Linked DNA regions of Homo sapiens: regions 2 and 3 are each linked to region 1. Evidence: fine-mapped expression QTL. A gene starts in region 1. Each other region holds a variant in brackets. All regions are shown on one strand. Distances are between the middles of the regions. Region 1 holds the start of NEO1 (neogenin 1). Region 2 has its middle 78 kb from the start of NEO1. Region 3 overlaps ADPGK (ADP dependent glucokinase).

Region 1 (10,743 bases):
GACTCAGTTTCCTCATCTGTGGAATGTGAAGAAATTGTCATCTTCCTCACAGGACTGTATAAAAGATTAAATACATGTGAAAGAGCATGGCACAATGCCTGGAAGTCAGGGAGTGTTCTGTAACTACTACTTTAATTAGCCACTATTATTATATTTGCTCCCTGGAATATTACACACACATTTTAAATAATGGTTATAGGAAAATCTGTATGTACTGGCATGGAACGATCTCCAACATACTAAGTGAAAAAGCAAGTTGAAAAAACAATAGGTAGTATGATCCTGCTTATCTGTAAAAAAATAAAACCATACACACATATGCACATGCAAGGGAAGATATTAAAAGGGGTTACTTATGGGTTTCAAAAATGGAATTTGTGGGTAGAAGTGATAAAATCTTTTATTCTATGTATTTTTATATTGTTTGACTGCAAACAAACATATATTTATGTATTTTTAAATAAGTTTTTAAAATAAAATGATTTAAAGATAATGTGACAACAAAGAAAAATGGTATAATGTCAAAGGAAAACATTTCAAGTTATACATACACCATGATTACAATGTAAAAAGATAATGTGCCATATAGGCAGTAAGTAGAAAGAAATATACCAAAATCATACCAGTGGGTCTGAATGCCTTTTTTTGTCACTATTTACAAAATTTTTGAATCAAAAAAACTCTCTTCATTCTAAATGAATCCAAAATTTGAGCTCTATTTTAAAATCATCTTTCACTAGCTATGTCCATGACAAAGTTAATTTTTCAAAATCGTAAACACAAAACTTCTCCTCACTTCACTTAGCTCTCCGGTCAATATGATCTTACCTACAGTCATTTCCTCTGACTGTTCTCCAATTATTGATGCAATTTTACCCAGAAACCTAAACACTTACCAATGATATGGTAAATAGCTCCCAATCACATGGAAGTCACTAATAAAATAAAGTGTTTGGAAAAAAGACTATTAAATACAGCCTCCATATAATGAGATTTATTAAGGTTACCCCAATATTTTCATTGAGGTAGAGAAAAACTCATAAGGAAGAAACCAGCAATGATCAATTAAGCCAAAAGAAAAAAAAGTCTACACTTTCAAATAATTTAATATAGTATATTTTTAGAGTTCACAAAGAAACACTGAAGCCATTCTACATAGGTACAGTACTTTATAGTTTATGAACAATTTTACATTTTATTTTTCTGACAATCCAGTTAGGTAGGTAAGGTATTATTCTTGCCTGCCTATATCCCCCAACTTACAGATGTATGTGAAGTTGCAGAACCACAAGTCATACCCCATATCCTCTGCCTTCATGTATGTCTTTTCACTATCTCACATCATGTATTAATTTTCATACAGTTTATGAAAATCAGTCATATTTCTTATCTTCTTTGAGCATTCATCCCAGAATTCTATGATCTCTTTTGTGCCTCATTCTAACAGACAGGCAGAGCAACGCCATCAGTCTTTTCTTTTAGATGACTCAGTAAGATCAAAGATCTTTCCAAAGATGACAAAACTAAAAAAACGCTAAAACTACAGCATATCCAGGAGGATGACCAAGATCACAAAAGATCTGGAAACTAAGTAATGTGAAGAGTGGCTGAAGGAATTAAGGATGGTTAACTTAAAAAGGATAAGGTTTGAGGGGAAGGGCAGGGGGGGCCCACACACACATGCACACAGGAAATGTGATTAGACACATGAAGGGCCATCATATAAAGGAATCAGATTTGTGCTGTATGGCCCTACGGGTTAAAAACAAAGGCAATTCAACATTCAGTCAACAAACATTTACTGGTTATCTTCTCTATGCTACATGTTAGTGCTACACTAGGGAAACAAAGGTGAATAAGACAACCCGGCCAACCCCTTCAGAGGTTGAGACTAGCAGAAAAGACAAGAAAATAAGTAACAGAAGATGAAAAGTACTCAGGAAGCTATGGGAACACAGAATAGTGACCATAACTCTCTTTGGAAGAGAAAGCTGGTAGAGAAAAATTCATTGACTAGATAAGGAGTTTCAGAAGTGGACAAGGTGAGAAGTGACTTAACAGAAAGAACAGCATGTGCAAAGGCACGGAGATCTGAAGCTGTGTCGTTAATCTGGAGTGGTGGAATGCAAGGTGCATGTTAGGGGTGACAAGAGATGAGGCTTTATTGGGTTTGGGAGAACAGAGGTAAAGAATACAAAGGGCCTCACAATCTCCATGCCAAAGAGTTCTAACACCCAAGCTACAGAACACTAGTAACAGATTTTAAGTAGGAGAGTGGCATGCTCAGGAAAATATTTCAGGAAGCTCATTCTAGCAGGACAGACTTCTAGAGGGTAACAGTACAGACAAAGAGATTAATTATGGAGCCACTACTGTTAGTCCAGGTGGGGATGAAGATGAAAAGATACCGATTCAGAGTCAAGAAACAGCTGAGAGGTAAAAAGCAAAAAGAACTATCCGCTATGGCAATGGGAAGAGGAGGTCTTCTTGATCTCAGCTTGGGCAAGTGGATGAACAGTGATGACCAAGACAGGCAACACAAGAAGACAAATCCATGCAATCCTTCCAACAACATGAGACACAGGGGCCAGGAACTGGTTTGTTCATGTTTAGAGAATGGGGATGAAGGAAGCACGAGGGAAAATGACACAGAGTTTAACTTCGGACTTCAGTAACCTAAGATCCTATTTAGTGAAGGTACCGAGTGGCAAGTGAGAAAGTGTGGACTAAGAGAGTCCTTAGCTTACAGGTGGCAACTGAGGGCAAACAGAGTATGTATAATGAGATAAGCTTTAGATACTAATATTTAAGTGAGTGAGTTCAAGAAAAGCCAGAAAGACAAATGAAGAATTAATCAGAGAAGAGATTAACCTGAAGATAGAGTAATGCTGAAAAAGGTAAGCAAAGAGGAAAAAATGTAAGAAGGGTGGGGAGGGTGAAAACTACAGTGAAATGTACTGTACAAAGCAACATTTTCTAACAGAAGTTATTCAACACAGAAATGGACTACCCTGTAAGGCAATGAATCACATCATGAAATAAATGGTTCAGGCAGAAGCTACAGAGTCCTCGGTGAAGAATGTTCACTCTAAATAGAGAAGACATGCATTGCACAGGCTGCTGCCATGTCATCTTCCCCAAGGTCTCTACATATCTTTTCAGTAATCTGCCCTTTTTCAGAATACCAGATTATGTTCCTACTCAATTCCAACCCTCCTCCCTTGCTGACCATTTTCTATCACCAGTCCTTTACTTCTTACTTTTTCCTCCACCTCCGTATGTCTATAACCTCAGATGGAAAAACACTTTCCATTTATCCTATTGTCCCACATCTCTATTTTTCTCCACCTTCTACTACTGAACATGTCCACTTCCCTACAATCTATTCACTATAATCCCCTATAAAAAGATTTATAAGTCTATCACTCTACAAAAATAAAAAAAATAAAACTACTGACAAAGGACATCTGATTTGCGGACAGCTTGTTCCAGTTGCTGCTTACTCAGTTCTCCAGTCTCTTGATCTCTTCCGCAGTTTTATGGCAGAACTGACCAACCCCTCCTTATTGCAGTTATTCCTCTCGCTTTTGTAATGAAGCAGAGCGGTTTACAGGAAGGACTCTGGACCGAGAATCAGGAGATCTATGTTCTAGACCCAATTAAACGACTAATTACCTGTGAGCCTCCCCACCTCCACTCCTACCCACTCCTCAGATCTCAGTTCTTGTGAGACACTCTTAACACCCAGACTAGGTTATGTCACTCCAGTACCCACTTTGTGAAAACCTATTCTCCTTTGTAGTGCTTATCACAATTACTTAATTATATAATCAGTAGATGGATGGCTATCTTTCCTACCCACACACCAGACTGTAAACTCCATGAAGGCAGAGAGCATATGCCTTGCACCTCATCTGTGCAAAATAAAAACCTGTCAATTGAGTTAATGTTGAAACAGATGTTAAGACCACTTCCTGAGACTGCTTGCATTATTTTTATTATCCTAAGTAATAAAATTACTAGCATTTTAGTTACTTACAAAATTATCGGCAAAACTTTAAACAAAAACTTGAAATTTGGTGAACTACATATGAATTTCCATATAAAATAGATCATGAGTAACAGGAACTTGTTTTCCAAAATAGTTATATTTCTCTTGCTCATCTAAGAGACAGTTGGATCAGTAACCTGCATTTCAGCACCAAAATGTGTTCTAAACCATATACGGACTGAATGTATAAGGGTACATCATGACATAAGTGATGTTTAATTTGACATTAAAACACTATTGTTTACGTAGCTGTTTAGAGAATACCGAGTGGTACTTTACGTTTAAAGCTGTTCTTTAACATTGGCAAAAGCCATGAGCTACATACACACTCTGCAAGGAAATGAAAAGTTTATCAGTCAAGTTACCTTGCAGTGTGATTTTAAATATTATTTCATATAAATCAGGGAAAAACAAGTACTGGTTCAGCGGTAAGACTGCTTTCAAATGTAAAAATATCATATCTCACACGAGTGAAAGTTTTGTCAAGTTTTATGGTACACCACCTTGGTCAAATAATTTTAACAGATTACATGCTAATTTGCCTTTCAACTGCTGAGTGTATCCTGCTCAACAATACCGTAAGGTCCTTCCCGGAAGGCTTGGCATTTTTGTTCGTTGGTCCCCTTAATAGGAATGCAGGTGGTTTCAGTAATCTATAATATTCCAAAAAAGAACTGAAAATGGCTTTTGAGGTTCAATGTTTATACAATGCCATCTGAAAACATTGTACAAGTACCTAAAATCTGATGCTTAGACAATTCCCTTGGTTAAGAGTGGTTAATAGGCTGTAAATATAGTTGTAATCCCCAGGAAAGAAGAGGCATTTCATAACGGAAACACTAACAGATACGATCACTCCGAGCCGCTCTCCAAGGCGTCCTCATCGTTAAATCAACACCAGGGGTTGTGAGCGGGCAATTGTGCCCCTCTGACACCCCCGCTCTTCCGCAGACTCGGGCTCCAATCCCCGCGCGAGGAGTCCCTCGAGACTAGCCAGCTCTTCCTCGAGACTTCGGAAGCTGGGAAATCCCTGGCCAGGGAACCAGGAGCTCAAGCCCCCTCCCCTTTCCTTTCCTGAAAATTAATGAATTGGCCGTCTGATTGTTTATTTAATGAGGTGTGTAGTGGCCTCTACTGGTGCTAGTGTGAGCACAAGAATGTCCCACTCTTACAAGTGGGATGAGCCTGGGGGAGGGGAGAGAGGCGAGGGGTGAACCTGCCTCCAGGTACAAAGCTGGGAACTAGACCCCTGCGCCCCCGACCTGCCCCCCGGCAGCCGCCCCTTCCCCGGTGGCGCCCCCTCTCGCCCTTCTCCTCCCCACCACGCGCGATCCCCTTTCTCTTCGGCAACCGGAGCCGAGGCAGAGAAGTTCCTGCACGTTTCCTCCTGGATCCTAAACAAAAACACCGCAGCCGCGGCCGCCTGAGCCGGTGCCGCGCCCCCGCGAACCCCCGGGCCCGCGCCCGCCGCTTACCTGGGGACTGCGGCGCGGAGCCGCTCCTGGCGGCCGCGGCGCCCGGCGCCCGGCGCCCGAGCAGCAGCAGGCAGTAGAGCCAGAAGGAGGGGGTGCTGAGGAGTCGCCGGGCTCCCCGCTCCGCCGCCATCTCTTCCCCGAGAGTGAGCGGCAGCGGCGGCGACAGCGCCGCGGAGCCCTTGCCTCCTTCCCTCCCGCGCGCCTCAGCCGGTCCCTCGCTGCAAGCTCGGCTCCCGCGGCCGCCGCTGCTCCAGCCCAGCCCGGCCCGGCCCGGCCCGCGCAGCCCCTCTCGCTGGAGGGGAGACTCCAGGGCGCCTCCCTCCTGCAAGGGGGCGGGGAGGGGAGGAGAGCGAAGAAGGGGAGTCAGTACATTCCGGGGCGGGGGGGGGGGGGCGGTGGGTCGGTCTCCAGGTTCCAGGCGCCGCCACCCGCCGCCGACTCCGGCTCCACACACCAGCGCGAGGGGGGCGGAGACCGCGGACGGCGGGGGCGGGGGCGGGGGCGGGGGGCGGGAGTCCCGGGCGCGCACACGCGCACGCGCGCGCCTCGCCCGCACCCCCTCGGCTCCGCGCGCGGCCCGCCCCCGCTCCAATCCCGGCTGCCGCCTCTCGGGCCGTGGCGGGCCCGCTCCCCTCCCCCTTCTCCCCGGAGCCGCTGACGGGTGCGGGGCGCGCGCGCCGGGCGCTGCTGCTGGCGTCAGGGAAACCCCGGAGAAGCGGATCCTCCTGCTCCTCCCGCCCGCTCGCCGCAGCCCCTCGGCTCCGCGCGCCCCCGCCTCCTCCTCCTCGCCTCGGGGACAAATTCCCCCCTCACCTCCCCAGATGCCTCTGGCTGCAGAGACCTGAGGGCGAGAGGCGCTCCGAGCTCAGGCTGGTCCGGGAGGCCGGCGTGGGCGCGCACCTCTGCACAGTCCGGGCCTGGAGCCTCTATATAGGGCCTCAGAGGAAACCGAAAGGCCTCCGGGAGGAAACCTGGGTGCGCAGTGGGTCGGCCCGGGGATTTATGTGCTCGCCAAAAACAATAGCGATCCCGCCCGACTCTTGCTGGGCCCTGGCGCGGCTCCCGTGGGAGGGGGCCGGCCGCGCAGCCGCTGACCTCCGGCTCCCAAGCCGGGCCGCCGTCGCCGCGCGCTTCCCCCGGGCAGCGCCGGGACCCGCCCGAACCGCGCCCCCACCCGCATCGCTCGGCCCGGGTCCAGGGAACTAGGCACAGACAAAGGTGCCCGCTGTCCACTTCCTCAGCTCGTGCGGGGGCCCCGACCGAGCCCTGGGACTCCCCGGGGCCAGTCTTCTCGCAGTAACTGCTACGTTTTACCTGTACCTTTGCGGGACACTTGGCGTTTTCCTACCTGGGAATCACGTCTTTCGCTGATAAACCAAGGAGCAAGTGGGATATGATTTTAAACCACTTAGTAATCGTGAGGCAGCACCCAGGCTACACAAAGTTAGGAGAAAGCAGTTTGTAGTTCCACTGCTGATGAGACTATTGATCATTTTATATACTGCACCCATGAAAAATTTTTAAAGAAAATTTATTTGTATGATTATGCAAGCAGAGTCACGTTTGGTGGTTGATAGGCGTTGGGTTTTATTCACTCTTCTGTGTAGTCGATAACCGAAATGTCTTGCTTCCCACAAGAAAATGGCTATTTCACTAACATATCCCTCTGTGCTTTCTCATAGTTACTTTCCAAAGATATTTTATTCTAAAGCGCCAAAATGAACAATGTAAGACATGGATTAACGTCGGGAGGGAAGAGCTCAGAATCTTCATAAAACCTTAAATCATCAAAACGGTGAAATTAGGAATTCTCATGCTAGTTCTTTGAAACAATTGACTTAATAGAGGAAACACATGCTTATGGTTTTTCACTAGGGAAACCATTTAAATACCTTTTTGTTTTGGTTAGAGTTGTTAACCAGCAAAAATATTTCCTAAATACCCGTGATTGACCTGTTAAATTAGAAATAGATTACCTCCCAATTACTTCACAAGTATTTGCTTAATTAACCTTTAATAATCACATCATTATTCAGTTTTCTGAGATAATTAATGAGAAAAGCTCTTTGAAAACTGTAAATTGCCTTGCAAATGTTAATTTCCTGATATCTTTTCTAAGTCTGGAAAAATTTCATTATATTAAACCTATAACGTGTAATATGACTTCTGAGATGAAGCTTACATTTATCTCCAAGTTTTGAAAAATACATGAGTTGTGGCTAATAACAGACTGATTTTCATATATGACTTATATGAACTGTCTCACTAATTTATCAGCCCACTGTGTATATCAGGTTAATATCAAAAAGTTTAAAACAGTTGTATATTTCTGGCTTCTGATTAAATCACAATTTTAATAAAACCCACTCTATTAAACCACTAGTAGATGGAGCCCCAGATTAAAGCTACAGATCCTAAATCAGTTCAAGATAGTTAAGTAACTCAGGCACACACTTGAATTCAGCTCCTTTACTTTGTTTCAAAGTCACTGACACTGTCGACATGCCCTTTAAAAATCATCATTGAGTAATTAACCTGTTCTTTGTTTAGTAAAGCATATCTGAGAAAAGATTTTCTTAGGCATCTCTTTTATCATTCTTATTCTCCCAACAAGATTTTCAACAAATACTTCAGCCTGCACGTATACTGCTAATCAACACTTTTATGTTGTCTAAACTATCAATCTATGAAGAGATATTAAACCACTGGTGAAATTAACAGTTTTTTCATCTAAGTAAAGTTAGAACATGAGGCCCATGTTCAAGGAATAAGTGCACAAAGAAACTTTAGAGCAAAGAAAACAGAGTGGCCATTGTGTGTCTGTAAAAGTTATCGAAATGCAGGCCAAAAATAACTAGACTGATATCTTGTGAAATTTATGCTAATGTATTTTGATATAAAAATTACATGAAATATTAAAGCCTATGAATATAAAACTTGGTAGGAATCTTATTCTCTATAGTAAAAGGATTTTTTTTTCAACATTAGAAAGGACGTACAATTCAGTGTTTAACTGCTGGCAGTAATGAGATTCTGCAGCTGATTCCCTGGCTGAATCCCAGTGTCCGAGGTTGAGAAGAAGAAAGCTAGTCCCCTGACTAGCAGATCTCAGGATAGAACACTTCCTAGTCACAGCAGACTTCAACTAGAAGTTGCCCCAGTCTTAAGAAAGTGATTTTCTTCTGCACAGAGATTGTTATTTTTATATTTGCCCTTTACATTCCACTAGGTAAGAATTTTTATTTTCTCCCGTTCTCCTTCAGAAGCCACCTGCTCTAGGGAGCCATCTCTGATTAAGCGTAATTAAAAAGGATGTGTGCTCCTTTTTAAGTACAAGCATGCTCAATATTAATTTTGCTTGTCACATGTTGCTTAGTTGATCACATATCTTTAGTTCAACAACAATCTATTAATTCAGCAAAAATTATTGAGGACCTGTTTTCACCAAGTATTGTGCTGGATGCTGGGATAACAAAATTATTGGTTCATTCATTTAATATTTATAAAGTACATCCTGTGTCTCTGGTCCTGGCTTATGTTAAGGGAAGACAGTGATGAGCCAGATAAACAAAGTTCCCAGTCTAGCAGAAAGGGTAAACAATTATAACAAAGAAGTGTAAAGACTGTTATGGTAAGGAAAGATAAGGAGTGTGGGAAAACTTAGTAAGAGCATCTAACTTGACTAAATTGTGTGTGGGGGTGGGAGAAGGAGAATTAGAGAAGCTTTGGCCTCTAAACAGAGACCTGAAGGTAGATAGGAGTCAGCCACGCCTACAGGTGGGATTTGACCTCAGATTTGCGTTTTAGAGGGAACACTGAGGCTGCTTCTTGGAGTGTAGTTTGGAAGAAGTCGAGACCAAAAAAAAAAAAAAACAGTTCAGATTTTGTTACAATAGTCTAGGGAGGAGATGATGGTGGCCTGGAGTAAAGCAAAGGGGATTAAGAAAAGTGAACAGATAAGAGAGAGATTTAGGAGATAGATAGAAACAGCAGGGGTGTGTGGGAGAGATAGGAGATGTGGGTAACTCAGATTTCAACTTGGGAAGCTGAATGAAGGTGGTGGCATTCACTGAGGGGGGAATGAGAAAGATGAGCAGATGGGAGACAATGTTAGTTTAACTTTGGACAAGGAAATTTAAAGTACCTATGCATACATAGGTACTTTAAATACATCTGAGTAGAAATATCAGTAAGCCGTTCATTACTTGGATCTGGAGTTTAGCAGGGAGATAGGACTGGAGAAGTGAGTCATCAGCATACACTACATATGCCTGAGTATAAGGTGCTTCTGAAAATAAGGTGAGCCTCCATTTTTCCAATTAGAATCCACCCCACTCCCCCAGGCCCCTCGGCGGCTCACACCTGTAATCCCGGCACTTTGGGAGGCCGAGGCAGGCAGATAGCTTGAGCCCAGGAATTCAAGACCAGAGTAGGCAACAGGGCAAAACCCGGTCTCTACATTAAAAAAAAAAAAAAATTAGCTAGGTGTGGTGGCGTGTGCCTGTAGTCCCAGCTACTCGGGAGGATCACTTGAGCCTGGAGGTCAAGGCTGCAGTGATACATTATTTTGCCACTGCACTCCAGCCTGAGTAACAGAGCAAGACCATGCCTCAAAAAATAAAAACAAAAACAATCCCCCCCCGTAAAACTTTGTGGCCAACTTGAACAGATAAACTTTTAGAGATATAGATGAAATAATCAGGGCTCTGCAGCTATAAAAAAGAATGAGATCATGCCTTTTGCGGGAGCATGGATGGAGCTGCAGGCCATTATCCTCAGCAAACTAGCACAGGAACAGAAAACCAAATATCGCATGTTCTCGCTTATAAGTGGGAGCTAAATGACAAGAACTTACGAACACAAAGAAGGAAACAGCAGACACGGGTCTACTTTAGGGTAGAGGGTGGGAGGAGAGACTGGAGCAGAAAAAATAACTTTTGGGTACTGGGTTTAATTCCAGGGTGATGAAATAATCCATACAGCAAACTCCTGTGACATGAGTACCTGTGTGACAAACCTTCACTTGTACCCCCAAACCTAAAATAAAAGTTAAAAAAATTAAATAAGAAAGAAAAAGTTGGGAAAAAAGAAATAATCAGGGCTCTATTTATAATATTGAATATATTAATTTAATTATGCTTACTTTAAATTACGTATTATATAAATATAATCTTTAAAATAATTTTATTGAAATTCTTCATGGTGTCTTTATCATCA
Region 2 (10,743 bases), 78 kb after region 1:
TTTCACTTCTTTTGGATAACTAGGAGAGAATTGCTGGATCACGTGATTATTGTCTGTTTATGAGACTGCCAAACTGCCTTCCAAAGTGGCTGTGCCATTTTACATTCCCACAGGCAATGAACAAGAATTCCTGTTGCTCCCTATCCCCATCAGTACTTGGTATTCTCAGCTTTAAAAAAAAAATGTTAGCGGGCGCCTGGAATCCCAGCTACTCGGGAGGCTGAGGCAGGAAAATCGCTCGAACCTGGGAGGCGGAGGTTGCAGTGAGCTGGGATCGCACCACTGTACTCCAGCCGGGGTGACAAGAGCGAAACTTAAAAAAAAAAGTTAGTTATTCTAATACAGGTAAAGAGCATCTCCCCAGTGACTAACGATGTGATGACTGTCTTTTTATGTGCTTATTTGTTATGCATATGTATTCTTTGATCAAGTCTTTTTATCCCTTTTGCCTATTTTCATTGGATTATTTTCTAATATCGAATTTTGAAAGTTCTCTGTATATTGCTGATTCATGTCCTTTATCAGATATGTAATTTGCAAATATTTTCTCCCAGTTTATCATTTTTCATTCTCTTAACATTATCTTTGAAAGAGTTGAGGTTTCAAATTTCGATGAAATCCAATTTAGCAATTTTTTTCTTTTATAGGTTGAATATTTTGGGTATCATTGCTAAGAACTTGTTCCTTAAGCCAAAGTCACAAATATTTTTTTCTGTGTTTTCTTCCAGAACTTTTATAAGTTTAAGTTTTTCATTTACATGTGAGATCCATTTTTATTAAAACTTTGATTAGAGAGTGCTTTAAGCATTTCACATACGAAGCTGATAGTTGTTACGTATATAGGCGTTTTGCCATGTTTCAATTATGTTTTGGGAAATTATCTTAGAGTTTTGGGTCATCACGAAATGCATTATTCCCCCTTAAAATAATGATCAGTGTTTAAGAGTAGAACTTCTGTTTTTCAGGAACAGATTATTGACGTTAAGTGAGATATGCTTATTTTTGTTAAAATGGGATTTTACCTCATCAATTTTTTTTTTTTTTTTCCAGACAGGGTCTCACTCTGTCACCCAGGCTGGAGTGCAGTGGCACGATCTTAGCTCACTGCATCCTTGACCTCCCATGCTCGGGTGATCCTCCTACCTTAGCCTCCCAGGTAGCTGGGACTACAAGCATGTTCCACCATGCCTGGCTAATTTTTGTATTTTTTATAGAGATGGGGTTTTGCCATGTTGCCCAGGCTGGTCTCGAACTCCTGAACTGAAATGATCTGCCCGCCTCGACCTCCCAAAGTGCTGGGTCTGCAAGTGTAAGCCAACATGCCTGGCCCCAAAATACTGTTTAACGGCAGCACAAACTGTAACTCTTTTCATAATTATTATTCAGTGGCAGAGTTGGAATAAATATGAATGAATCAAACTATATTTGAGTCACAAAGATATGAGTTTGTATGCTTCATTCTCGTCCCACTGAACATCCTTGCTTACAAAATCATGCTACTTTTCTAACAAATGAGTGAAATTTGAATAAGCTGGAGGAAGCAGGTGCCCAGGGGAGGACAGATCTGTTGCACTGTCAGAAACCCCCCTCTGCAAGCACACACACAAAGACAACAGGCACGGCAGAAGGAATCAAAAGAATCAGCCAACTAAGGAGAATCATACAGATTGTGTTTGCACCTGACGAAACTGCGAGTGGGCAAAGCACTAAATCCTTTTTTTGTATCCGCTTGCTATTTTGTTTTAATTTTTTGCTGTGTATAACTCAGATTGGTGTGTTTCTTGCTGGAGATTTTCAACAGATCATCCAGAGCTACATACGTTATCAGATAATTCCTCATGGCATTTATTCACTCATTCATATTTACCTAATATTTACTGGTGTCTACTACATGGTTGAAATCGAATAGTCAATAAGGAAGACACACAGTACATTGGTTCAAGAACTCCAATGATTTGAGAGTGATGAGCAATGGACAGAAGGTTCAAACATGGTGGATAAAGAAGAATCTCTATCATACTCACTGCAGGAATTGGGGTCTATTAATAGGCCACATTGTCAGGGTGCAGTTGTTGAGGGTTTCAGGGGGCTCCAATAAGTGCATGTTGTGCTCTGGAAAGTTTGGTTGATGGTCACAACGGTCTCCTGAAAGTATTCAGTAACAGGAGAAGGTTTTCTCTTGTGTATCAGTTTCCTATTGCTGCTGTAACAATTTATGACAAATTTAATGGCTTAAAAAAACACAGATCTATTATCTTACAATTCTGGAGGTGAGACGTCTGAAATGGGTCTCACTGGGCTAAAACCAAGGCGTTGGCAGGGCTGCATTCCTTTTGAGGGCCCTAAGGGAGAATCTGTTTCCTTGGCTTTTCCAGTTTCTAGAAGCCACCTGCATTCCTTGGCACATAGTACCTTTTCTCCATCTTCAAAGCCAGCAGCATAGCATTTTTCAACTCTTTTCTCTGACTCTGGCATGCCTGCTTCCCTCTTTCACCCAAATCCAGGATAATCGCCCCATCTTAAGAGTCTTAATCACATCTGTAAAGACCTTTTGCCACATATGGTAACACATTCACAGATCCTGGGGATTAGGACATGGACATCTTTGGTGGGAAGTAGGACATTATTTTGTCTACCATACCTTGGGCTTCCTAGACCTATCATTGACCTTGGCTCATGCTCTAAGAGTATGAAGGGCATCATGAGGGGTGCGAGGCCTCAGAAATATCTGGAGGAAGCCAGGCCAGGGAGTCGATGGATGTGTCATTAAAGTGGATAATTGCTCCAGATCCAAGAGATCATACAGGAGCTTACATCAGACCCTGGAACTTCAAGAAGGCTGTATAGTTTCAAGGTCATCCTAAACAGCTGCTTTGTCCCAAGCATGTCTGATCAGTTGAACCAGTCAGTATAGGCTAGCTTATATTGTGATAAAAATGATCCTCAAATCTTGGCCGCTTATAGCAAACTAGGTTTATTTGGTAATGCTACTCATCCAGTGGGGGTCAGAAGGGCTCACCTCTGTGCTCCTTACTCTGAGACCCAGGTTGACAGAGTAGCAGCCATTTCAAACATTACCAGTTGTCATGTCAAAGGGACAGAGAGAGATCATGGTCAGCAGAGGAGTGTCTTGCCCAGCAATTAAATACTTGGGCATAGAAATAACTTCTGTCACTTCTACTCACAATTCGTTGGCAAAGCTAGCAGATGGCTCCACCCAAACCCAATGGGATCAGGAAAGGCAATTTTACCATGAGCCTGGAGAACCGAGAATATTTAGTGAATAGCACTAATAATCACTGCACTTACTGTCTTCTACTAATTCCTGATATGAATGGAGGCTGTGTGCCCACCAGGGCCACTTTTGTATGTCCTAGGAATGATCTGAGCTGATCCAAATGCTAGTGTCAGGTAGAAGCAAATGGCAGCCCTGCATCATCACCATGTTGGCTCCTGACAGGCCTGGTTCATCCTGAGCTGCTCACTGTAAAGAAAGTCCCCGGGAAATGGCAAGGAATTGATATGCCTTTGAACTCCTGCAAACCTGGGTATGAGCCTCTGGAAATCAGCCTTATACTTGACAAGTTCTGTTCCAATATGGCTCAAAGGTTGCAAATTTGCGTGGTTCCTATCCAGGTGGGCTATGAGGGTATTTGCATGGCCCATTGATACCAAGACACTGAAGTGAAGCTGGCAGAGCTATGGGACTCATGCCAGCTACATCTAATTATCAGCAGGAAATAAAAACATGAACATAAGGTGAGCAACAATACCAAGCTCTCATGTATGCCTCCCCTCCAACCCTTGCCACCCGCCTTAAACTCCACAGGTAAGACTCCAAGCATCCTATAGGTGAAAGGTTCCACCAGCACTCCCCATTACCCTGCTGCTGTTGTGGGTGCTTGGCAGATACAACCACCTGGACTACGACCATTTGAAGCAGGTGGTGTATTGGGCCTATGGAACCAGAGTCTGTCTCACAAATTTGGAATGGGATGGATTTTAACCAAAATCTCCTTGCATTTTGGTGAGAAGCCAGAAACACTCTCTGGCTCAGAGAGGAAATTTAGGTGGTAGGTAAAAGGCTCTAGTACAGCTGGTTAATTCCTTTCCCTATGTTTCTTATAGGTGGACACAAGGCCCACCTGACTGGGTCCCCAAGCGCCATGTTTCATGATGGCATTCAAAGGGGGGTTGTGCCCATCTCTATACCCCTCCTTGCATTCTCTCTGCAGTTGCCTGCTTGGGTGGAAAAATAAAGAAGCTACTATACTCCTGCCACTGCTTCTCCTCATACACCTAGTGAGGCAACCCTAGTCCCAGCTTGGGCTGGATAGCAGATGCAGCCAATAGCCAGTGATGCTTTTGAGTGTGTGGCTGCAGTACTGGTCAGTTTACTGTGGCTCACTCGTCAGATGCAAGTGGCTGGTCTGTCCCTGTCCCAGAGCCCTCGCTGCTTGATATTATCTGCTTGAGTGGGTCTCCCTCATTCCTGACAACTCTTGAGTAGACTACTGACAGCTTGTGTGAGAAGACTCACCTCTGTGTCCCCCATCAGGCGTGGGCAAGCAAGTTGTGAAATCACCCAGCTGCAGCCTACAATTCTCTACAGTTGCAAGGAATCCTGGGTAGCAGGACTGTTGTTCCAGGGCAGGTGTGAGCAGTAGTGGTGCTGCAACTAGAGCCATCATGGTCAGTGGGCAAGGATGGTGGCACAAGGTGAGCAGCTGGGCTCTGGCCTCACTGCTGTCCTTAGCTGGTGAAGACCTCTCTGCATGGAGGATTCTCTGCTTTCTTCCTCCTCAGGATCAAGACTGAGTACCTTCAAAACGGAGGATAGATCTTCTTTATCATGCAACCAGTAGGACAGCCCTGGAAGTGTGGGTTCCTACCTACATGGCTTAAGCATCATGTAGATAGGCCACACTACACCGGTGTGAGGTGCAGCTCTGGACTCTGCATGGGTGGCTTCTAAAACAACTGAATGGAAATGTTTTCTGAGTTACTCAAATTTATCTAGATTTTCCCATTGGTAAATGCAAAACCTATATTGCATTGAAGCAGGGCCAATATCTTGGCTGGCAAATGGATTTTAAAATATCTTTGAAGAAGTGAACACAGAGGGCCCAGGGAAGGTTGAGGGGTAACTCCGTTTCCTCCTGTAGAATCTACCTTGAGGTCTGAGGGACACTGGCCACAAAGCACTTTCATATTCTGGCTGTGTGGCCTAAGATTTCCCAGGGATAAGTGATATAAAGGTGACCAATTGATCAATGGAGGAAATTTCTCTTTATAGAAGCAGTCTAGCTAATAAATGAAGAGAATGATAGAATGTCACTATTTTATAACACTT[A/C]ATGATATACATGAAATAGATTTAGACAATGGCACTCAAAGGCTGGTAATATCACACACACAAAATTGACATTATATGCTCTCTGATGAAAGAACACACCACTACCTATAAAGCATTATTGTAAAAAAAAAAAAAAAATCAAACCTGAATTCAACAAATCTCGTCATCTAATTACCAATTAAAAAACAGGGACAGAGGAATGTGTTAAAAAAATACCACAGGGACTGGTGATCCGCAAAATTTAGGCTATGGGAAACTATAGTTCAATAACTTAGTTTATTTAATAAATTTTGAAAGCAAAAGAAAACCTATATGAAGAAAAGACTTAAAGCCACATAAACTGATTATAATGTATGGACATTATTTGGATCCTGACTTGAACTAATGTAAAAATAAATGGAGACACTGAGGACATTTTAACACTGGCCAGATATTTGGAGACATTAGGAATTATTCTTATTGTTAGGTATAATAATGGAATTGTTATATCCAAAAGAGTCCTTATCTTTTGGAGCTATATGCTAAACTAATTACAGATTACATGATATCTGAAATTTGCTTCAAGATCGTCCAGGTAGAGCAAGAGGTAAGGAGTGAAGGTAAAAGCAGCTGGGCATGTAATTGAAATAAGTCTATTTGGGAGGCCGAGGAGGGCGGATCACCTGAGGTCCGGAGTTCGAGACCAGCCTGGCCAACGTGGTGAAACCCCATCTCTACTAAAATACAAAAATTAGCCAGGCGTGGTGGTGTGTGCCTGTAATCCCAGCTACTCAGGAGGCTGAGGCAGGAGAATCATTTGAACCTGGGAGGTGGAGGTTGCAGTGAGCTGAGATCACACCATTGCACTCCAGCCTGTGTGACAGAGCGAGACTTCATCTCAAAAAAAGTGTGGCTGTGAGTTGACCATTGTTGGAGTTGGGTGATGGGTAAAGGGGGCATCATATTATTCTCTCTACTTTTGTATATGCTTGAAATTTTCCAGAAGAAGAGGAGGAGGAAGTGTGTGGAGAGAGAGAGAGAGAAAGAGAATATAAATCGGATTGTAAGGCAGGCGGTCAGGCAGAGGAGACTGGCAGCAGGGGTGGAGTAGAGGGCTGTGAACTGATGAGAAGATCAAGGGGTCAGACTCCAGGGGTCAGTGTCTGGGGCCTTCCATGCATAAGACTCACCTGATTGGAAGTTCTCCTCCCACCTTTTCCTGGACTGTACCCCCAAACCAATATGTCTCAGAGTCTGAACAGTAAGAGGCTGCCACCAGCACTTCTGATTCAAAATAAGAATAACTAACTACCTGTCCCCCTGGAAATTACCAGCATGCTTCTCCTTCTCAGGTGGGGAATGTCTGGTTCTTCCTTTGACCAAGGGCAGTATTTCTAGTACTGTGTTCTCAGAAGAATCAGTCACAGGCCAAGCATGGTGTCTCACGCCTGTAATCCCAGCACTTTGGGAGGCTGAGGCAGGTGGATCACCTGAGGTCGGGAGTTCGAGACCAGCCTGGCCAACGTGGCAAAACCCCGTCTCTACTAAAAATACAAAAGTTAGCCAGGTGTGGTGGTGTGTGCTTGTAATCCCAACTACTTGGGAGGCTGAGGCAGGAGAATCACTTGAACCCAGGAGATGGGGGTTGCAGTGAGCTGAGATCACACCACTACACTCCAGCCTGGGTGACAGAGCGAGCCTCTGTCTCAAAAAAATAAAAAATAAAATAAATAAATAAAAAAAATTAGTCATATATCCAGAAAGATTCTCAGTAGGACTGAGGGCAGCTCAGGCCCCTTAATAAAAACTATTTGAAATGCAGGGAATTGTGAGAAGGAAAATCAAAGCCTAAGACTGAACCAGCAATTAGATCAGCTCCTGGAATATATTTAAGTCAAATCAATCCATGAGGGAATTTCCGTCACAGCTCACTTTCCCTCTCCTACAGCCCATGGCTGGAATCATAGCCTTTCAATCAGAGCTCACCAGAAATACAGCAATATCCATCTTCTAAAATGCTTCATCATAGTTTTGCAAAGTCCCGGTACATCCCCTCTGCTCTTGTGGATTTATTTACATATTGATTTATTTATTCCTCTCTCTACAGCAGGCTAGCCTCTTGAGATTATACCATTTCATTTACAAAGCCATTGGGGTCATGCATCTGGACAACGAAGCCAAGGGGAAGGCTGTCCTTGGATGTGCTGAGCTACACAGATCAGACTTGTCAGAAACAAGTGTGGGAAGTGGGTGCAAAGAGTCAGCCTCCAGCCTGGGACTCCCATAGTCATCTTACCACAAAAAGAGAGGGCTGGCTTACACCGAAGGGAAGAAAACAGCATGGGAGGTGACAGAAAAAGCAGCAAGGAAGCCCTGGGTGTGACCTCTATGAATCCCTCCAGTTGAGGAGTGGGGTCTCCCTACTGCAATCCCAAATGGTGCAGTGCCCCTATCAGCAGGCAGTTACCTTCATCTCTTTCCAGGGCCTGAACAGTACAGACCCCTCGGGCTCCCCACAGATTACTTCTCAGCCGGAGGAGGCTCCGCTAAGAGAGAAGAGAAAGAAGAAGAAAGAAAAAAGAATGCACAGGAAAAAGGTCTGGAAGAAACTGAGTTGAGGGAGAGAAATCTGTTCCCTGGCAAAGGCCCCAGGCTGCAAGAAAAGCCTTCCAACACTTTTTTATAGATGCCTTTTTTTTTTTTTTTGCTAGGAAAGCTAAAAGCTGGAAAATTCCCTTCGTTCTGATTAGCATTCTTATCACTCTGAGTTTTCCCCCTCTTCTTCCAGTCTCATGAGTGCTTTTCTTTTTAAGAGAAGGATTCGCTGAGACACAGAGATGACATCTTCCGAGTGATCATTAAAGAATTCTCATTGGCATTGTTGGGCACACTCGGGTTGTCAAAGGAGGTGCCCCTTCTTACCAGGTTACTGGTCAAACTACAGAAGCCGAGGGTGCCCGGAACTTGACTTTCAACTTCCTTTTCATGGGGGAGGCTTTGAGACTTCGATGTTTAAAAGGATATGTTTGCGTTTGCGTGGGATGGGTATGTGGATGACAAGCTGTCAGGAGAAAGTCAACAGCAAGGCTGGGCAGCTTTCTGGGCAGGACATGTGTGTTCGTCTTGTGGCTTGAACTTCTAACTGAGGTTTGGAGTTGGAACCAGAGTCTGTCCACTTCTTAAAGGGGCAGTACCCGGAGGGAGAGTATGATTAACTGAACTGTCCTGGCTGAAGCCTCCTAGACCAAAAGCTTCCCTCTGAAGACTGCATTCTTGAACCTGCCACCTCAGGGGTCTGAAGAAAAAGTAAAAAAACGAGCTTCATCTGGGAAAAGTTCAAGATAATATGTCTTGGCAAACATAATGAAAAACACAGACAGTTGCTTTAAGAGAGGGACCCAGAAAGAGGTCAGGTTCTGCTGAGAGAGGCAGAGCAGCAATTAGATGGGAGCTTATGTTGCAGCATGGAGGCAAAGGGGTCAAAGAGAGGGTAGAATACTCTGCATCTGATTTCAGGAAGGGAGCACCACATTGCAGCCGTGCTGAGCTCAGTTATTGGGGAGGAAATGTAGAGGTACAGGGAATCCGAGGGCAGTGAGAGGAGCTGGATTTATGAGGACATATTAAAGAGCTCAGAGCAGTGTATGCTGCTCGGCTGGGCAGAGAGTTGAGGTTTTATGCTAGCAGTGGGCCCAGCCACGTGTAAATGGTGTAGTCAGTGAGAAGGAGGGGAGTTATTTACTCTGATTTGAGGTTTCAGAATTAAGAGTTCTCACTGGAACGCTTAAAATAAAATTTGCAGTCAAAGAGAGAAATACATGCCACTGAATTCCATCAGTTTGTGGAATAAATACTCTTCCTAGGGAAGCATTGGAAAAATCATGTTATGAGATACCTCCAATGACAGAGGAAAGATTAGCACCAAATTTATAAATCATATAACCAGGATCTGCTGAGAAACCGTAACTTTTAATCTTAGGACTTAGGATCAGCTAACTTGAGAAGGAATCTGAGTCATAGAGGGGGTAAAATGGGAGGTGTGATTTCTTCCCACTAAGCAGAATGGGAAGTAATCTCACACTTCTGGCCCCAAACCCTTTCCCAGGCTCATGCTAAAACAATTATTGGAGCCAGAGGAGAGAGAAAAACCTTTTTACCCCAGGATTTAAAATATGCTATTTACCAATAACTTATTTTAAAAATGGGTTATGCAGGGGAAAGAGTTACGAGTACATAACCTGTCTTTTCCCTAGGAGCTATATATTTCAGGGTAACTAAATAGCCCAGTTGATGAAGGAAAGCTCTTTTACAGAAGAGTGCACGCTAATAAGTGAAGAAGGAATGATGGGATTGGAAAATCACCATTCTGCAACCCCTATGGGATGATTGATTCAGGCAAAGACCATCAGTGGTTGTAAGATCAGCTGGTGAGAGGTTAATGGTGAGCTACATATTTACAGGGCATCAACTACCGCCCCAGTTTATCTGCTAGTTCCAAGAGGAGAAAACCCTTAACTTTGCAATAAAGGGATCAGGCAAGCCATCACCATTTTAATCCAGTGATCAAGCCCAGTGTCACTGATAATAGGCCAACTTGACATGACATCCCTCCTTGTGTGATACAGTGCTAAAGTACATAGCATCATCTATGAGGTTTTCTGGATAACAAGGTTTTACCTGAATCACATCAAGACTGTAGAATTAATTTCCATCTCATGGGAAATACAGGGGAGACAGGAATTTGTTAGGCATCACCTCAGTGGTAAATCAATCAGGCAAATCAAAAAAGTGGGACATTCTACAGTACGGTCAGTTTTCTGTATCTGTGGATTCCACCAACTCTGCATCAGAAATACTAAAAATAAAAACAATAATGCAAATTAAAAAGCAATACAATAACTATTTATACAGCATTTACATTGTATTAAGTACTATAAGTAACCTGGAAATGATTTGAAGTACATATATGGGAGGATATGTGTAGGGTACATGCAAATACTACACTATTTGATATAAGGGACTTGAGCATCCTCAGATTTTGGTATCCTCAGGCATCCTGGAACTGATCACCCATGGATACTGAGGGACAGCTGTATCTTCAATAAGTCAATGTCATAGAAAGCAAAAAGGAGTGGAGGTGCTATTTTTAGATCAAAAGAGACTTAAAAGACCTAATCACCGAATGTAGTTTTGATCCTTTATTCAGTCAAGGAATAAAGCTGGCATAAGGAAATGAGCTGTAATAGGATATTTTGGGGAATTATTGAAGAACTTTGAGTACCGTGTAGGTGTTATATATTTACAAATTATTAATTTTGGATATGATATCATTATAAAGAAAATGTCCTTATTTTTTAGAGACACAGTGAAATATTTAAGGATGAAGGGTCATGATGTCTATAATTATAAAC
Region 3 (10,743 bases), 280 kb after region 1:
TGTGTGTCATGGAGAAGTTCTGGCTTATATTTTCAGTGTTTCTTTACTAGAAATCATCCCTCTTTTAAAGAGAAGGGCCAAATACAGTAGCTAGATGTTTTATGCACTGAAAGGCATAGTAAATCTTAGGTTATGCTTCTCCAGTTGACCAGAGTCATTATGTGTGTCTTGAACAAGAAACTGAGTATTTAAATGCTATTTGATAGGCAAAACTCCTTTCAAAACATGAATCCCTAGGGGAAGAATTAATAAAAAGGACCCTTATAATGAGGATGCAGTCTCTTTGTGTCTTGAGGGAGGATGTCTCTTCCTTGCCCTTGTAAATCTTCCTTAAGTGATGTAAATAATATCTAGTCTGCATACAAACCTTTTTAAAGTTATGTCATTTTAAAAATTCTAAAAGGAATACAAGCATGTTAAAAGTAGAAATATACCTGGTAAAATTCCTCTTCATCCCAGTCTCATTCCTCTTCATTTTTGAAAGAGACTAAAAGGGAAATACAACTATGTATTTTACACCAAAATCTCATCCATTGGGACATTTTTATTAATGAGTTTACCTTGTGGTTTCAGAGCTGCTCAGAATTAACTCTGAAGCCCAGTCACCCGTATCACTAGGGGTGGTCTCAGTTTGCCGGCTGGGAGCTGCCTGTGTGGTAATCCAACCTCACTGGCCAGAATGACATCCCAATAGGCAGAGGCAGGAATAAAGATGACCATGATAGGGGTAGGGGCGGGAAGACCTCATCTAGCTACCTTAATTATTTGAACGTTCTCTTTAAAAGAGGGATGACTTAGCAAAGAAACCCTGAAAATGTAAGACAGACTTTCTCCATACACACATAGGAGAGGTCATGCCAGACAACCTTAGTACAAGTTGAGCATCCAGAATGCTCTGAAATCCAAAACTCTGGGGCACTGACATGATGCCACTGATGTATATTAAGTACTTATATGTGAAAATTCCACCCACACGTAAGGAATAGAAACTTTATTTCATGCACAAAAGTATTTAAAACATTGTATAAAGTTACCTTCAGGCTGTATGTATAAAGTATATATGAAATGTGTTTGGACTTGGGTTGCATTCCCAAGATATCTCATGTATATGTAAATATTCCAAAATCGGAAACACTCTGATCTCAAGCACTTCAGATAAGGGATTCAACCTGTACTTTATAATTTCCATCGAGACAACCAGGAGTGGCAGGTCTTTAACGTTCATGGGTCAGTCCTGTGAACACTGGCCAAAGGGTGAGTTCTTAAAATGCTGCAGGTGTGCCTAAGTCTGTAAAACACCACTAAATTCTAAGAGGCAGGGTTTCAGCTGGGAGTACTCAGGCATTTAGGAATTTATTGTATCTTACCATCCTCATTTGTTTTTAGAGGGAAGATGCCTGATACCTAGCCTTTGACTGAAACACATATTTTGCTTACTCTGCGCCAATTGCTGTTCCTAAGTATACATTCACTTATTTAATCTTAACCATAGCTCTATGAGTTAAATGCTCATATTATTGCCATTTTGTGGATGAGGAAACCGAGGCACAGAGAAATTAGTGACTTGCCCAAGTCACACGGCCAGCATGAATCCTGTTTGGCTCTGCCAGCGTTTTTCTCAGAAATGTTACATTTTTGTTACAGTAGCTTTGTTCTGAAATGCTAAGCACCTATCTTCTCACTTTGTAACTAGTGTAAAAGTTTGCCAAATTATTGAAGAGTCCTGTGTTCTGATGCTAATACATAAATCCAGTTAAAGTAATTTTTCTCCTGCCATGTGCTGTTTACTTCCCAATTCAGGTTTCAGACCTACTTCCTGTTTTTTCTGTTGAATAAGGTTCTGAGAAACATTTTCCTTTTGTTAAATGCAAAATGGCTACTTGGTGCTTCTGCTGCTTTCACACAGTTTTTTTCCTCCTTCTAGAGTCAATGCATGTGTTGATGTGGTGCTCTCAGGGGTGAAGCTCTTGCAGGCACTTGGCCTTAGTCCTGGGAATGGGAAAGATCACAGCATTCTGCATTCAAGGAATGATCTGGAAGAAGCCTTCATTCACTTCATGGGGAAGGGAGCAGCTGCTGAGCGCTTCTTCAGTGATAAGGAAACTTTTCACGACATTGCCCAGGTTGCATCAGAGTTCCCAGGAGCCCAGGTCTGTTTGGTTCAGCAATAGTAAATTAAGGGTGGAAAAAGATGCCTTTTTAATATGGTTCCTAGAAGCAAGCAAGCAACTTTTCATTCCAGTTTGAAGAGGAGGGGAGCAAAATCACCCCTGGTTGAAAACTGTGGGTCTAGGTTGATGGTTCTCAGACTTGAGCATGTGTCAGAATCATTTGGAGAGGCTGTTGAAACACAGATTTCTGGGCCTACTACCAGAGTTCAGATTCAGTAGATGTGGGATGGGACCCAAGAATTTACCTTTCCAGCAAGTTTCCTGGTTGATCCTGTAGGTCTGAGAACCTCCTTTTGAGAACCACTGGTCTGCAAGGTAGAACCTGTCGAAGTTAGAACCTTAGTGGTTTCCAAGTTCACCTGGTGATTATATACAAAGCCCTGCATGGTCCAGGCACTTCCTGGAGGTTCACGTGGAATAAGAGGCAGTGCTGGGGCTGGAGACCCAACCATGGCTCTTCCTACCTCACCCCAGTATGCCTGCTCCTACATGTACCCTCATGCCTCTTGAGGCTGAGTTTTGGTTGGTTGGTTATCTCCCATGTCTTGCCCCCACCCCATTCTTCCTCCTCATTTAAACCTCCCTTTGGCTGGGCACCCAGTCTGGTTTGGTAGTTCTAGCCAGGGAAGCTCTTAATGCCATTTTTAATTGGCACCTTTCACAGGCAAACCTTTGTGACTACTTTTATTTTGATGACTTAAGATTTTAGGCCGGGCACAGTGGCTCACGCCTGTAATCCCAGCACTTTGGGAGGCTGAGGCAGGTGGATTGCTTGAGCCCAGGAGTTTGAGACCAGCCTGGGCAACATGGTGAAACCCTGTCTCTACAAAAAATACAAAAAATTAGCTGGGCATGGTGGCATGTGCCTGTGGGAGGATCACCTGAGCCCGGGAGGTCAAGGCTGCAGTGAACCATGACCGTGCCACTTCACTCCAGTCTGGGCAACAGGGTGTGACCCTGTCTCAAAAAAATTTTAAAAATAAGTTTTTTGTCTTCGAAGCTGCCTATTTGAACATTAGAAATGGACATAGGCATTACCTAGCTGAGTTTCTAAAGGTGACAGCAAGTTAAGATTTCAGTTATCATTTTGACAACTGGGATCAGTAGTGAGATTCTTATCTCTTATGAGAGAATCTCGATAGTTCTAACATGATGAGTTCACTGCTCAAAAGTCTTTATGATTACGGAATTTAAACCACCAGTTTGATTTCTCTTCTCTCTTGATTCTGCCTTTATTTCTTGATGAAAAAAATTTTTACAGCAACTTGATCTAGCTTTGTGATGGTCCAGGTTATTTCTTAACATTGTAAAACCCCTTTCACTAGAGGAGTGCCTTTTCATACTTCCTTATAGTTTAAGGCAGGTTGATAAACATTATATGAAAATTCTGAAATCCACTTTGTAGATATCTTACTATTTTCCCAAGATTTTTTTTAGTAAATTCTAACTATCGTGGTTGAATAAAACATTAAGGCTGACATGTTAAAGGGCCAAATTTCAGCCTACATATCACAGAAAGTTTTAAATTATCTCTAAAAAGCTATTACTGTCCCACCTGAATTCAGAGGTTAGTCAGCACAAAATTGGGATAAGAGTGATGTCTACCATCTAGAATTGTTTACTCCAACCTTGTCCAGTCTGCAGCCCAGGATGCCTTTGAATGTGGTCCAACACAAATTCATAAACTTTCTTAAAACATTATGAGATTTAACCTCCCCCCCACCCTTTTTTTTTAATAGCTCATCAGCTGTCGTTATTGTTAGTGTATTTTATGTGTGACCCAAGACAATTCTTCCAGTGTGGCCTAGGGCGGCCAAAAGATTGGACACCCCTGGTTTAGTCTATGCCTCTGCGTGGGCTGAGGACTAGGAAGCTGGGATAGTAGCATTCCACCCAGGTAACACTATCAGGCTTTTCAACTTTTATAATAGAACAGCAGCCTTAGCTGTTATGTGTCAGATTTCCAAGGCATATGGATCCATCCTTAGCAACATGGAACACCAACCTTGAATTATTTGTTCTCCAGGTCCTCAGCTGAGAGATGTGGTGTTTAAGGGAAAGTACTGTCCTATATTAGGGGCCCATTATCTTTAGAATTTACTCCCAGGAAAACTTTTATGTTTCCCAACACATCAGTGTGTTTCTTCGTTTCTCAAAATTTAGCAACAAACATTTACTGAACACTTCAGAAGAAGACAGTCCCTGCCCCGAAGGACCTAGTTGTGTACCCAGATGATAGTAGCCCAAGCAGACAAGAGCTGCATTAGAGGTTTGTTCAGGTTATAGGGGTAGGAAGAGATCTGTAATCCTATCTGGTGAGGGCGGTTGTGAAGGCTGAGATGTCAGTGGGGTGTAAGGGGAACAGAGAAGGCATTACAGAAGAGGTGACACTGCAGCTGATTCTTGGAAAGTGATCAGGGTTTTACCTAGTATATGAGAAAGGGAGG[G/T]TGTCCTAATGGAAGGAAACAGCATGTGCCAAAGGCACAGAGACAGGGGAAGGCTGACTTGGAGAGCTGTAAGCAGGGTGTGGAAGGGAAGGGCAGGAGATGAAGGTAGTAAGGAAAACATGGGTTAGATAAAGGCCATATGTGCCTCACTCAAGAGTTAGATTTTAGTTCATTATAGTATCTACTGAATGATTTTTCCACAGGATAGTGAAATTTTTCTTCATTTTAGAAGGACTATAATGTAGACGATAAGCCCTGTCCACACTTTTCCTGTTTCCTGTGTCTCTTCTGGCTGTCTGTAAGCTCAGAGCTGAATTTGATCAACAGTTAAAGCAATCAGACTCATTTTCATGGTTGTCCTATTTATTTTCTTCATCTTATTACTCACTTTCTATTTCTGTGTTGCATTCACTTCATCTGTGTGTCCTTTGATGTAAAATCACCTCAAAATGTTTTTGGGAAATGGACTATAAATTAATTTTTAAAATAAAAAATGATTAAACTTGGGTGATATAGTTGTATTAAAATACTGTCTAAAAGCCTTGAACTCTCTTACAGCACTATGTAGGAGGAAATGCAGCTTTAATTGGACAGAAATTTGCAGCCAACTCAGATTTAAAGGTAGGTCAAGTTTTTAGATTAAAACCTATGCCTTTCCCTAGTGTTTCAATAATTTTAGGAGCAAGAATGAGTATCTATTCCTTGATTCAACTTATGGATCACCTACTATGTACCAGACCCTGGGTCTTTTGTTAGGAAGCAGTAATAGTAGGAGATAGTAGTAACTAATACTTTGAGTGTTTACTCTGTGCCTGACATTGTCTTTAGTGCTTTGCATAGATTATCTAATCCTTGCAACAAACCCTGTAAGGCTAGTCGGTACTGCCATTGTTCTTCCTTTCTGCATGAGAAAACTTGAGGCACACAGAGGTTCACAACTGATTGGTAATGGAATGAGAAATTTAACCCAGGCAGTCTGACCCAATAACCCATGTTCTTAGGCACCATATCATTTAATAGTTAGGAGCATGTGGGCCTTGAGACTAAGGATTATACAAGTCATGAGGGAAAACAACGGTTGGCCGTGTTGGTGAGCCTGGATCCAGAGTGCCAAAAAATAAAAGCCACTAGATGAGAGTCAGTAGGGGAGTGTCTTCAAGACTTAAATTGTTTGGTTTAAGTAGAATTAAAAATCGTTGCCATGTTCACAGTAACACCTGAGTAAGAAGTTTCTCTTGCTATGAGTAGAATAGGCCTGAAGGGGGAGGCCAACAAGAAAGTTATCGCTGTTTTCCTGTATAATGATTAAGGTTTGGATTAGAGCAGCCAGAGAGGAGAAACATGTATCTAAAACCTACTACAATACATGGGGAACAAAGAAGAGATTTATCAAAGATGATTATGGAGTAAATAACCTTGATCAGTGCAGAATGGTTGTGGCCGCTAACACTAGAAAACAGACTGTGAACAGTCTTCTAGTTTTGGGGGACCAGCCTAAAAATAGAAATGTGAGTCAGAGTGGTGGAACCAGAAGCCAGAGATGAACTCAGAAATACGGATAGGTCATCAGCAGTTTCAGGGAAAAATTCATATGGAGCCACACTATACACCTGGAGATAGATGTGCTTTCAGTTTAGAGAGGATATTAAAATGTGAACATTCATATTTTAATAGGAATCAAAGTTCTCATGAAATATTAGGGTAGAAAATACTTTTAAGAAAGAATAATAAAAAGAAAATAAAGACTTTTGCAGTCATTATGTTTATAAATTGTAATTAACTCCCAAATAGAGAAGATTAGAAATTCCAGGGCTGACCTTTGGAAATATTACCAGCTAATGGGTGGAAGAAAAGGAGATTGATCATAAGCCCTTTAGAGAGAGCCCAGGCCATTCCCATCAGAATCCCAGGAGTTTTCATGGTTTCCTAAGAAGCCACCCTCCTGATCCTGAGAAATAATTCTGCCCTCTGGGAAGACAATACCCAGGACGGTCATGGCTGAGTACAAGATTGACCTTTCAGTATTGACCTCCCCTGGGACCAGCATTTGCTCTTGGTCTCTGGAGTAGCTGGTCCTGGGACCAGTCTGATTGGAAGGCATTCTAATAAAACAGGTCTGGCTTTGGTAGGAGACTGAGGAAAGAGAAGCATTCTGTTACTCAATCCTCACAACAGTCTTATGATTTCAAAGACAGAGGTCTAGAGAGGCTAAGTAAGGTGCCCAGGGGCACCTGGCTAGTAAATGATAGAGTCAGGATTCAAGTGTCAGGCTCTGCCTTTACTTCACCCTGTATGCACTCTCAAAGAGACTCAGTTTAACTTTCTGAAATGCTTCTCAACATGGACTGAGAGATCATCTGAGAACTACAGAGATTAAGAACTAGGTATTTTCCAGAGGTGGTAATTATAGCTGGCACTTCCTTCTATAGTTTTTTACCATATACCAGGCACTGTTTTAAGTTTTAGGTGCTTTAAATGTGTATGAACCAATTTAAATCTTCATAGGGCCCTATAAGGGAAGTCTTTTTATTATCCCCATTTTGCAGATAGGAAAAATGAGGCATGGAGAAGTTAAAACTGGTGAAAATCACATACCTGATAATGAGTAGAGTGGGAATTGAACCCAAGTAGTCAAGCTTCAGAATCCATTCTCCTAATAGCCATGCTATATTGCATCTTTGAAATAGACGCTGGTGAATATAGTAAAGGCAGGTTTAGTGGAATGATAGAATAGAAGCCAAATTTCAGGAGAGGAACCGTGCCTTTAAAAAATATACTTGTGTAATCCCAGCACTTTGGGAGGCCGAGGCAGGCGGATTACCTGAGGTCAGGAGTTCAAGACCAGCCTGGCCAACATGGTGAAACCCTGTCTTAGCTAAAAATACAAAGAATTAGCTGGGCATGGTGGCAGGCGCTTGTAGTCCCAACTACTCAGGAGGCTGAGGCAGGAGAATCGCTCGAACCCGGGAGGCGGAGGTTGCAGTGAGCCGAGATTGCGCCACTGCACTCCAGCCTGGGCGACAGAGCAAGACTCCATCTCAAAAAAATATATACTTGTGGAATTAGGCAAGAATTAGGAATAGTTATTTTATTTTGTCAAATGCTTTTGTCAAATTCTGCATTTACTGAGGTTATTGTGTGGTTTTTTGTTTTTTAGTTTGATATATGGTAATTATATTGACTTTCACATATTAAACCAACCTTGCATCTCTAGGATAAAGCTTACTTTGTTCTGATGTATTCATTATCCTTTTCACATATTCAGTTTACTAAAATTGTGTTTAAAATTTTTACATCAATGCCCAAGAATAATATTGGTCTGTATTTTTCTTTTCTTGTAATGTCTGTGGTTTTGCTGTCAGGGCAATACTGGCCTTGTAGAATAAGTTGGAAAGTGTTTCCCCCTCTTCAATTTTTTTTTTTTTTTTGAGAGACAGGATCTGGCCTTGTCATCCAGGCTGGAGTGCAGTGGCATGATCTCGGCTCACTGCAACCTCTGCCTCCTGGGCTCAAGCCATCCTCCCACCTCAGCCGAGTTCCTGAGTATTTAGGATTGCAGACACGTCACCACAGCCAGCTAATTATTTTGTATTTTTTGTAGACTTGAGGTTTCACCATGTTGCCAGGCTAGTCTCAACTCCCGACCTCAAGCGATCCGCCTGCCTTAGCCTCCCAAAGTGCTGGGATTACAGGTGTGAGCCACCACACCTATCTTCTCTTCAATTTTTTTTTTTTCTTAAGATGGAGTCTCGCTCTGCCCAGACTGGAGTGCAGTGGTGGCGATCTCAGCTCACTGCAATGTCCGTCTCTCAGGTTCAAGTGATTCTCATGCCTCAGCCTCCCGAGTAGCTGGGACTACAGGTGTGTGCCACCATGCCCAGCTAATTTTTGTATTTTTTAGTAGAGAGGGAGTTTCACTGTGTTGGCCAGGCTGGTCTCCAACTTCTGATTGCAAGTAATCCACCTGCCTCAGCCTTCCATAGTGCTTGGATTCATCCAATACACCTGGCCCTTTCTTCAATTTTTAAAACAGAGTGAGTGTCGCATTGGTATTGTATCTTCCTTAAATGTTTATAGAATTTAAGCCTTCTAGTGAAGCCTTCTAGGCCCAGGGTTTTCTCTGTAGGAAGATTTTAAATAACTGATTTCTTTAATAGATATAGGGAAATCCAGATTTTCCTTTTTTTTTTTTAAATGAGCTTTAGTAGTTTGTATCTTTCAAGGAATTTGTTTCATCTAAGTTGTTGGATTTATTGGCATAAAGTTAATTATGGTATTCTATTATTCCTTTAAGATCTCTACAATTTGTAATGATGTTTTCCTTCTCATTCCTGATATTGGTCATTTGTATCTTCTTTTTTTTCCTGATCAGCTTGGCTAGAGGTTTATAAATTTTATTGCTCTTTTTAATAAGTAATTAGCTTTTGGTGAATTTATTTTTCTCTGTTTTTCTATTTTCATTGGATTTTGCTTGCTTCAGATTTGACTTGCTCTTTTTCTAGTTTCTTAAGGTGAGAAGCTACAATCATTGATTTGAGACCTTTCCTGTTTTCTCATATAGGGGTTTAGTGCTATAAATTTCCCCTTAAGTACTGCTTTAGCTGCATCCCAAAGATTTTGATGGATTATTTTTATTTTCATTCATTTCAAAATACTAATATCCCTTTGATTTATTGAGATGTGCCATTTAATAGCCCATTCATGGACTACTTAGAGGTATGTTATTTAGTTCCTAAATATTTGGGGATTTTCCAGATGTCTTTCTGTTACTGATTTCTATTTCAATTCCAGTATGGTCAGAAAATATGCTTTCTATGACCTGAATCCTACTAAGTTTTTGAGACCTTTTTCATGGTGCAGAATATTCTATCTTGGTGAGGTTCTGTGTGTACTTGAAAGCTTCAAGAATATACATAAGCCTTTCTGTTGTTGGGTCGAGTGTTCTGTAAATGTCAATTAGATGAAGTTGATTGATAGTGTTGTTCAAGTCTTCTATATTCTTATTGGTTTTTTTTTTTTTGTCTATTTGATCTGTCAGTTATTAAGAGGTATGTTGACGTCTCCAACTGTAATTTTGGATACTTGTCTATTTCCTTTATAGTTCTGTAACTTTTTGCTTTATGTATTTTGAAACTCTTATTAGGTACATAAATGTTTAGGATTGTTACATCCCTTTAATGAATTAATTCCTTTATCATTACTAGGGATAAATAAAATCATTTCATAATATTCTTTGCTCTGAAATCTATTTTGATTGAAATAGCCATTCCAGCTTTCATTTGATTAGTATTGGCATGGTATATCTTTTTCTGTCCTTGTGCTTTTAATCTATTTGCATCTTTTTACCTTAAAGTGTATTTTTTATAGACAGCGTATAGTTGGGGCTTGCTTTTTAATCCACTTTGACAATCTCTGCCTTTTAATCGGAGTGTTTAGACCATTTACATCTAATGTGATTATTGATATATCAGGTTAGGTTTAAATCTAACATCTTGCTATTTGTTTGCTGTTTGCCCCATCTCTATCTTTGTCCCTCTTTTTCTGTACTCTTTTGGATTATTTTCTATGATTTCATTTTATCTTCTCTGACTTTATTAGGTATAATTCTTTTTTTCTTAGTGGTTGCATTAGGGTTTATACTGTACATCTTTAGCTTATCACGGTCTACTTTCAAGTGATAACAGGCATACCTCAGAGATACTGCATGTTTGGTTCTAGACGACTGCAATAAAACAAATACTGCAATAAAATAAAACGCATGAATTTTGTTTCCCAGTGCATTAAAAGGTATGTTTACACCGTACTATCGTCAAGTAAGTGTGCAGTACCATTATGTCTGAAAAAAAGTGTACACAATTTTAGAGTGCTTGGTTGCCAAAAAATGTTAACAATCATCTGAGCTTTCAGACGGTCATAATCTTTTTGCTGGCAGAGTGTTTTGCCTTGATGTTGATGGCTGCTGGCTGATCAGGGTGGTGGCTGAAGCTTGGGGTGGCTGTGGCAATTTCTTAAAACAACAATGAAGTTTGCCACATCAGTTAACTCTTCCTTTCACAAAAGATTTCTCTGTAGCATGTGATGCTGTTTGATAGCATTTTACCCACAGTGGAACTTCATTCAAAATT

The links.
Region 2: its variant is fine-mapped to the expression of NEO1 in whole blood (TOPMed, PIP above 0.99). The same link has a PIP of 0.9 or more in blood mononuclear cells.
Region 3: its variant is fine-mapped to the expression of NEO1 in whole blood (TOPMed, PIP above 0.99). The same link has a PIP of 0.9 or more in blood mononuclear cells.

The regions. Positions count from the first base shown.
Region 1 is chr15:73,047,589-73,058,331 of GRCh38, reverse strand. It overlaps NEO1 (neogenin 1), which reads right to left and starts at 5,869. Exons shown (of 29, transcript NM_002499.4): 1 at 5,527-5,869. The coding sequence starts at 5,656. RefSeq lists silencers at 5,550-5,929, 6,160-6,479, 6,570-6,639, 6,700-6,749.
Region 2 is chr15:72,969,259-72,980,001 of GRCh38, reverse strand. No RefSeq gene overlaps it. Among named protein-coding and RNA genes, the nearest start is that of NEO1, 78 kb to the left of the region's middle. The variant A/C (reference allele first, on the strand shown) is at 5,354.
Region 3 is chr15:72,766,279-72,777,021 of GRCh38, reverse strand. ADPGK (ADP dependent glucokinase) reads left to right here. Exons shown (of 7, transcript NM_001365225.1): 2 at 1,925-2,150; 3 at 5,177-5,239. Among named protein-coding and RNA genes, the nearest start is that of ADPGK-AS1, 11 kb to the left of the region's middle. The variant G/T (reference allele first, on the strand shown) is at 4,619.